Linked DNA regions of Homo sapiens: region 2 is linked to region 1. The links come from fine-mapping of genetic effects on gene expression. A gene starts in region 1. The other region holds a variant in brackets. All regions are shown on one strand. Distances are between the middles of the regions. Region 1 holds the start of DRC2 (dynein regulatory complex subunit 2). Region 2 has its middle 9.3 kb from the start of RND1.

Region 1 (4,388 bases):
TGCCTCAGCCTCCTGAGTAGCTGGGATTACAGGCATGTGCCACCACGCCCAGCTAATTTTGTCTTTTTAGTAGCGATGGGGTTTCTCCATGTTGGTCAGGCTGGTCCCGAACTCCCGACCTTAGGTGATCCAACATGGTGAAACCCCATCTCTACTAAAAATACAAAAAATTAGCCGGGTGTGGTAGCGGGTGCCTGTAATCCCAGCTACTTGGGAAGCTGAGGCAGGAGAATCACTTGAACCTGGGAGGTGCAGGTTGCAGTGAGCCGAGACTGTGCCACCTCACTCCAGCCTGGGCAACAGAGAAAGACTCAGTCAAAAAAGGAGAGAGAGAGGGAGAGGGAGAGAGAAAGAGAGAAAGAAAGGAAGGGAAGGGAAGGGAGAAGAAAAGAAAGTAATCTACTTTCTGTCTTTATAGCTTGGCCTTTTCCGGATATTTCATATAAATGGAACCATACAATATGTAATCACTTGTGTCTGGCTTATTTCACTGAGCATAGGGGTTTTTTTGGCCGAACATGGTGGCTCACGCCTGTAATCCCAGCACTTTGGGAGGCCGAGGTTGGTGGATCATTTGAGGTCAGGAGTTTGAGACCAACCTGGCCAAGATGATGAAACCCCGTCTCTACTAAAAATACAAAAATTAGGCAGGCATGGTGGTGACACCTGTAGTCCAGCTACTCGGGAGGCTGAGGCAGGAGAATTTCTTGAACCCGGGCGGTGGAGGTTGCAGTGAGCCGAGATCACGCACTGCACTCCAGCCTGGGTGACAGAGTGAGACTCCAGTCTTAAAAAAAAAAAAAGGGTTTGTTTGTTTTGTTTTTGTTGTTGTTTCTTTTTGATACAGGGCTGCTCTGTCACCCAACTGGAGTGCAGTGGCTTGACTATGGCTTGACCTCTGGGGCTCAGGTGATCTTCTCACCTCAGCCTCCTGGGGTAGCTGGGACAACAGGTACGCACCACCACGCCCAGCTAACTTCTTTTGTATTTTTTGTGGAGAAGGGGTTTCGCCACATTGCTCAAGCTAGTCTCGATCTCTTGGGCTAAAACGATCCTCCCGCCTCGGCCTCCCAAAGTGCTGGGATTACAGGTGTGAGGCACAGCGCCCAGCCTGCATATTCTTTTTGAGGTTCATCCACATTGTAGCTGGTATCCATAGTTTGTTCTGAATAATATTCCATTGTATGGACATAGCATATTTTGTCTACTCATTCACATGTTAATGGACATTTAGGTTGTCTCCAATTTTTCCAACTGGGCTATTATGAGTGAGACAGATAAGAAAATTCCTGTGCAAGTTTTTGTGTGTATACATGCTTTCATTTCTCTTAGGCAGATCCCTAAGAGTGAAATTATTGGGTCACATGGTAAATTTATGTTTAACATTTTAAAAAATTGCCAAACTGTTTTCCAAAGTGGCTACACCATTTTACATTTCTACCACCAATATATGAGGGTTCTCGTTTCTCCACATTCTCTCCAACACTTATCTTTTTAAAAAAGGTTTTTGTTGTTGTTGTTGTTTGCAGTTTTTACAGTTTTATTTAAACAGAAAACATACACATGAGCTGTCTACTCATTTTCTTTGCTGCGCAGCCTGGGATTGGGGTTGGTGACTCTGACGGCCAGCTGGGCAGCTCTTTTCCACGATGGCTTTGCGGTTCTTGGAGGAAACATTGTGAGCGATCTCAGCACAGTAAGATTTGTTGCACAACAGCAGCACTTCCAGCTCCTTGACGTGTGGACCAGGAATTTCCGGAAGCCACTGGGCAGCATGTGCTTTGTTTTCTTGTTGCTCCCATAATCAATGTTGGGCATCAAGATCTAACCCTTGAACCTTCCACGAACCCTGTTGTCAATACCTCTGGGTTTCCGCCGGTTACGCTTAATTTTGACATATCGGTCAGACTGGTGCCGGATAAACTTCTTGGTTCTCTTTTTGACGATCTTGGGCTTCCCAAGGGTTCTGAGGACGGTTTATAAAAGTGCACTGAGGGGAGGCTGAGACAGGAGAATTGCTTGAACCCGGGAGGCGGAGGTTGCAGTGAGCCGAGATCGTGCCCATCCTAGGCGACAGAGAGAGACTCTATGTCAAAAATAAATAAATAAATAAATAAATAAATAAATAAATAAATAAATAAAATGCACTGAGGAGACAGATTTTTGAGAGTTAAAAGGACCCTCTCAAAAACCGACCGCGGTCCTCCACTGGGTAGGGGGCGCTCCAAGACAGGGACTCTTCTAGCCTGTTGCCTCTCCATGTTAGCGATATCCTCGTTGCTAGGAGACTAGACGCGTCTTACAGTGGGAGAGCTCAGCCTCACTGATAGCCGGGGATCTCTCCTGTTCGAGGGCTGAGATCTCCGGTCCCACAACCGCCCACAACCAGGGGCACTTCTGGAAGTCCCCTTTCTAGGGACATTTTTCTTCTAAGCTCTGTAACGCGGGCCGAGGCAGACCGAGGCTTCTTTCCCGGATCCAATCCCCTGCCCCCATGCCTAAGAAAGAAAAAATGGCCAAGACGCCCCTGTCCGATGAGAAGCAGCTGCTTCTGTTTCAGCAGAAGTTGCTGGCAGAGGAGGAGATGGCCAAAAAGAAGGAGAGGCTCCTCAGCCAGTTCTTGAAGGTGATGGCCTTTTGCATTATGTCCTGCTCAACCCCATCCACCCCCTGCCCTGGCCCTGTCACTGAGGAAACCTCATTTTCATCCTGACCTCCCCTCCTCCGGAAATCCTGAGACCCAGATATACTTAGATTTCAGGCAACATTGTTTGGGAGGCGGGGGTGTTCTCTGCGAAGCACGGAGGGGGTGCGTGGTATACGGCTTGGCAATCTTTACTGAATCCCAGAACTGGGACCGTAGGTCCTGTCAGCTGTTCCAGCTGTCTGGAATGCTGATATTCTCCCTGGAGATAGGTCATTACAAACAACATCCTACTCTGATGCTCCCACCCTGAAGGAAATTCACCCTTGCCCTCCCTAAATGCCATCAGGCCGTTCCCATCGAAAAGGGGTAAGGTGTCAGCTGATAAATTAAGAGTGATCTTGTTTGTTGTACTGAAAGGCCCTGACTTCCTGGAGGTATATTTATTCCTTCACACAGGACAAGCTGGCCAAGGAGGAACACAACAGTGCTCTGAACCTTAATAAGATTAACACACAGTGGAGAACTGTCCTTCGGGAAGTCAAGACCAGAGAACTTCATAAGGACATTGAGATCCTCAGCCAAACATTTGAACGAGTGGTGGACTGTAAGGACAATGTCATCAAGGTAGGCACTCTTTCCAAGGAAACCTTGAGTATGGCTTCCTGACCTCTTAATAGAATGAGCCTAGTGAATCCATCTTAAAGCCCTCACAAGACACAGGCTGTGAGAAAGCCAGGCTATTGGTAATAATGGTTTTCACAGAAATAAAAAATAGAATATTGGGCTTTCATCCCTCTCTCCCTTAGAGGACCCACTCTTCTTGTCATCTATTGCCCAAAACCAGTACTATCCAATAGTAGAGTCATAAGGCACAGTAGACATCACCCAGTGACTTGAAATGAGTCCCACACCTTCATTTCAATGTCAGAAGGCTCAGTTCCAGAGGGGAACTGACTTGCCCAAGGTCACATAGCTAGTCAGTGAGAGAACCAGGACTCCAGCATGTGTTTATTGATTCCCACTGCAGTGCTCCATTCAACTAAATTGTTTGGCCTCTTGATTCAACTTCAGTGGCCCTGGATAAGGTTGAGAAGATCTCCATGGGTAAGAGCAGTTCTGGATTTCTAAGCAATTCAATCAGCCATCCTTATGCTCTTGGGAGGTTCTTGAGTTCTTGATTCCATCCTATCTTTTCTTCTAAGGGATTTTCTGTACCCCTTCTTTTGTCTTACTTTTAATATTCTGCCTCCATTTACTGCCTTCTCCTTAGTCTTTTCCATTATTTATTTATTTATTTATTTGACATGGAGTCTTGCTCTGTTGCCAGGCTGGAGTGCAGTGGCACAATCTCGGCTCAGTGCAACCTCTGCCTCCCAGGTTCAAGTGATTCTTCTGCCTCAGCCTCCCGAGTAGCTGTGACTACAGGCATGTGCCACCATGCCTGGCTAATTTTTGTATTTTTAGTTGAGATGGGGGTTTCACCATGTTGGCCAGGATGGTCTCGATCTCCTGACCTTGTGACCCACCCGCCTTGGCCTCCCAAAGTGCTGGGATTACAGGCGTGAGCCACTGCACCCAGCCAGAGTCTTTTCCATTTTCAACAAAACAAAGCCCACAGTAACAGCAAAATATACATTGCCAACATGGTATTCCCCCTCTAGAAAACACACATTTCTCTTTCATAGCCTAATCCCTGGGGAAAGAGCTCAGCAGACCCTGGGCAGCTTCCAGAGATAAATAT
Region 2 (4,388 bases), 29 kb before region 1:
GTGCCACTGCACTGTAGCCTGGGTAACAGAGTGAGACTCCATCTCAAAAAAAAAAAAAAGAAAAAAGAAAAGAAAAGAAAAGAAAAAGAAAGTGGAGTATCAATAAATCTTCTGTCCTGTGCAAGGTGGGAGGAATGAAGCAAGGCTAAGTGTGATTGGTAAAGAAGTAGCATTGGCTTATGTTAGCTTGGATGCATGGATGGTTGGTTATTCTTGTGGTTTGGACAATGTTCTTGTTTCTCTCTTTGTTCAGATATGATTACTGAGAGATCTTATTTCTGTCTGGATCTCTCGAGGTCGGTCACAGCATTGCCTTGCCTAATGTTGGTATTCTGTGAAATGCTTACGAGAAAACCAAAGCATTGCTAAGACTGCCAGGCAAGTTCCTGGCTGCCGGGAGCTGCTTTCTCCTTCTCAGCTCCTCTTCTGCTCCTCTTCCTGGGAGCTGAGCATTGTTACATAAGTGGTGAGAGAGCTAAAGGAAAAACAAAAAGAAGGAGAATTTTCCAGTAAAACTTTCTGGAAAAAGTAGCACTGAGCTATGAGGCAAAGCAAGAATAGGATGCTGAGAGGTGGGCCAGAGGGAGTGTTCTAGGAGAATGGGATGGCTTGGAAGCAGGAGAAGGAGGCCTGCGGAAGAGGACCAGTGCATGTGTGTGTATGCATGTGTGAATAGGAGGAGAAAAAACAAAACAAAACAAGCCACCTGAGCTGGACTAAGAATGAGGAGGGAGGCTGGGCGCGGTGGCTCACGCCTGTATTCCCAGCACTTTGCGAGGCTGGGGTGGGCGGATCACCTGAGGTCAGGAGTTTAAGACCAGCCTGGCCAACATGGAAAAACCCTGTCTCTACTAAAAATACAAAAATTAGCCGGGCATGGTGTGTGTGCCTGTAATCCCAGCTGCTCGGGAGGCTGAGGCAGGAGAATGAATCCCTTGAACCCAGGAGGCAGAGTTTGCAGTGAGCTGAGATTGCACCACTGCACTCCAGACTGGGCGACAGAGTGAGACTGTCCCAAAAAAAAAAAAGAAGAAGAAGAAGAAAAGAAGAAGAAGAATGAGGAGGGAAGACTGGAGCCTTCTCAAACTAAAAAAAAATTAGGAGGAAGGTATGGAGGTGGCCGAGGATGGGGCCAGAGTGAAAATAGAGGAAGGGGCCAGGTACAGTGGCTCACGCCTGTAATCCCAACACTTTTGGAGGCCAAGGCAGGAGGATTGCTTGAGCCCAGGAGTTGGAAACCAGCCTGATCAACCTGGTAAGACCCATCTCTACAAAATTAAAAAATGAAAAACTAGCCGGGCACAGTGGTGCACGCACCTGTAGTCCCAGCTACTCAGGAGGCTGAGGTGGGAGGATCACTTGGGCCCAGGAGGTCAAGGCTGCAGTGAGCTGTGATGGAGCCACTGCACTCCAACCTGGGTGACAGAGCAAGACCCTGTCTCAAAAAATAAAATTAAATTAAACAACAACAACAACAAAAAAAAAAAAACAGAAGAAGGTGGTGAAGATAGTGATGGTGAAGAAGCCTGTGTTCCATCTCGTTCTGGCTGAGTTGGGGGTAGGGAATGGAAGCACAGAGAGGAGCAGAGGGCAGCTGAAGGGAGTTCAGAGTAGCCACACTTGGGGTCAGGAGACTGGAGACCACACATGCAGGCCTTCCTGCCTTCTCTTGCCACTACCCCAGGGCTTGGCCAAGACTAAGGTGAACACTTGCTGGGTGAATGGGAGAGAGTAATTCCGAGGCAGGAAAGGACCTCAGGAGCACCGGAGTGAGTTGGGAAATGATGTGGACCCTGAGCCAGGCCTACTTCCTCTTCAGTTCCCACCTCCTCATCCTCCTAGGTAGCAGCAATTCCCTCAGCCTGTTTTACCCTCTTTTTTTTTTTTTTTTTCCTTCAGACAGTCTCGCTCTGTCGCCCAGGCTGGAGTGCAATGGCACAATCTTGGCTCACTGCAACCTCCACCTCCTGGGTTCAAGCGATTCTCCTGTCTCAGCCTCCCCAGTAGCTGGGATTACAGGCAGGTGCCACCACACCCAGCTAATTTTTGTATTTTTAGTAGAGATGGGTTTTCACCACGTTGGCCAGACTGGTTTTGAACTCCTGACCTCAGGTGATCTGCCTGCCTTGGCCTCCCAAAGTGCTGGGATTACAAGCGTGAGCCACGGTGCTCGGCCTGTTTTACCCTCTTTTGATCCTCCTCCTTCTCACCCCCTGTGACAGCCTCCCTGGGGATGCTCTTGCATCTACTCTCCTGGGCCCCTCTGGGAGGTCTTTCTTGATCTGGCAAAGGTGGACATAAGTCTAACCCTCCCCTGCCCATCCCTGGATTTCTCGCCTGCAAAAG[T/C]GAGGTAAACCAGCTATGGTAGGAAAATGGCTATAAGGAGATTTAGTTTCTCTATTTCTAAATGGCTAGGTTAAAAACAAACACAAGAGGCTGGGCGAGGTGGCTCATGCCTGTAATCCCAGCTAAACCCCTATTAAAAATAAAAAATTAGCTGGGCATGGTGGCACGTGCCTATTATCCCAGCTACTCCGGAGGCTGAGGCAGGAGAATCACTTGTACCTGGGGCGTCAGCGCAAGACTCTGTCTCAAACAAACAAACAAACAAAGCACAAGAAACTACATAGATAACGTTCATCCTCTGCTTAAAGTCTTCCTGTGGCATCAAGTCCACTTTTTTTTTGAGACAGTCTCACTCTGTCACCTAGGCTGGAGTGCAGTGGCTTGATTACGGCTCACCTCCATCTGCACCTCGGGAGGTGCAGCCTCCACCTCCCGAGCTCAAACAATCCTCCCACCTCAGCTTCCCAAGCAGCTGGGACCACAGGCATGCACCAGCACACCTGGCTAATTTTTGTATTTTTTGTACAGATGGGGTTTTGCTATGTTTCCTAGGCTAGTCTCAAACTCCTGGGCTCAAGGGATCTCCCACCTTGGCCTCCCAAAGTGCTGGGATTACAGGCCTAAACCACTTTGCCTGGCTTTTTTTTTTTTTTCAATTGAGTCAGGGTCTCACTCTGCCATCCAGGCTTGAGTGCAGTGGTACGATCATGGCTCACCGAAGCCTCAACCTCCTGGGTTCAATCAATCTGCCTATCTCAGCCTTCTGAGTAGCTGGGACTAAAGGCATGAGCCACCATGACTGGCTAATTTTTTTATCTATTTTTTGTAGAGACAGGGGTCTCCCTATGTTGCCCAGACTGATCTTGAACTCCTGGGCTCAAGCAATCTGCCCACCTCAGCCACCAAAAGTGCTGGGATTACAGGCGTGAGCCACCGAGCCCAGCCATCAAGTCCATTTTGAATAAAATCCAACTTCTTATCCTGGTTCCTAGAGCCATACATGACTTATGCTTGCCCCCTGGCTGACCTCATCTCCTGCAGTTCTCCTCTCTCCAGCTATATTGAACTTTTTAAAATTCCTCCAATAATGGCTTTAAAACTTTTCTATTCACAAGTCACAGTCAGAAATACATGTTATATCACAGTCCAAAACATACACTCATGCTATATTTAGAGATATAGATATATCAATATATATCACACTATATATATCTCTGCATGCATATATGTATATGTCTCCTAAAGTTTCCTCAAACATTAACCTTTACAATGCATTCTGATATTTTCTTTTCTACTTCTTTTTCTTTTTCTTTTTTTTTTTTTTTAAGATGGAGTCTCATTCTGTCACCAGGCTGGAGTGCAGTGGCTCACTGCAACCTCCGCCTCCCGGGTTCAAGTGATTCTCCTGCCTCAGCCTCCCAAGTAGCTGGGACTATAGGAGTGCACCACCACGCCCAGCTAAATTTTTTATTTTTAGTAGAGACGGGGTTTCACCATGTTGGCTAGGATGGTCTCGATCTCCTGACCTTGTGATCTGCCCGCCTCGGCCTCCCAAAGTGCTGGGATTACAGGTGTGAGCCACTGTGCCTGGCTACTTCATTTTTTGAATGCTTGTCAGGACTCACTACATTGATTTCACTATCCACTGTGCTCACACACCAAACTTATACTCAGGGCCTTTTCACTGGCTGTTCCCTCTACCAACAATGCCCTTCCCCCTGACTGCCCGCATTGGCACCTTTTCATCCTTTACATCTCAGGTTAAGTGTCTCCTGTCCAGAGAAGTCAGCTAGCCTGAAGTAGCCACCTGATCCTTCTCTTTCATGTTCTCAGTATGGCCTTTATCACTCTGATATTTTTCTAGTTTATGGTTTTTGTTGACCTATTTTTTTGTTGATCGTCTTTCTCCCTCACTATGATAAGGTGGACTCTGTAGGTGCAGTGACCTTCTCACTTTGGTATCATACCTAGAACAGTGCCTGGGAACAGCAGGTACTCGGTATTATTAGTAGACTGTGGGAATGGGCCTAGTCAAGACTCTT

What was found. PIP is the estimated chance that this variant, and not a neighbour inherited with it, causes the effect.
Region 2: its variant is the best candidate, but not a certain one, in a credible set for the expression of DRC2 in atrial appendage (GTEx, PIP 0.53).

The regions. Positions count from the first base shown.
Region 1 is chr12:48,901,843-48,906,230 of GRCh38, forward strand. DRC2 (dynein regulatory complex subunit 2) reads left to right here and starts at 2,291. Exons shown (of 8, transcript NM_033124.5): 1 at 2,291-2,626; 2 at 3,104-3,271. The coding sequence starts at 2,495. It also overlaps the pseudogene RPL32P27. RefSeq lists a silencer at 2,248-2,297.
Region 2 is chr12:48,872,970-48,877,357 of GRCh38, forward strand. No RefSeq gene overlaps it. Among named protein-coding and RNA genes, the nearest start is that of RND1, 9.3 kb to the left of the region's middle. The variant T/C (reference allele first, on the strand shown) is at 2,347.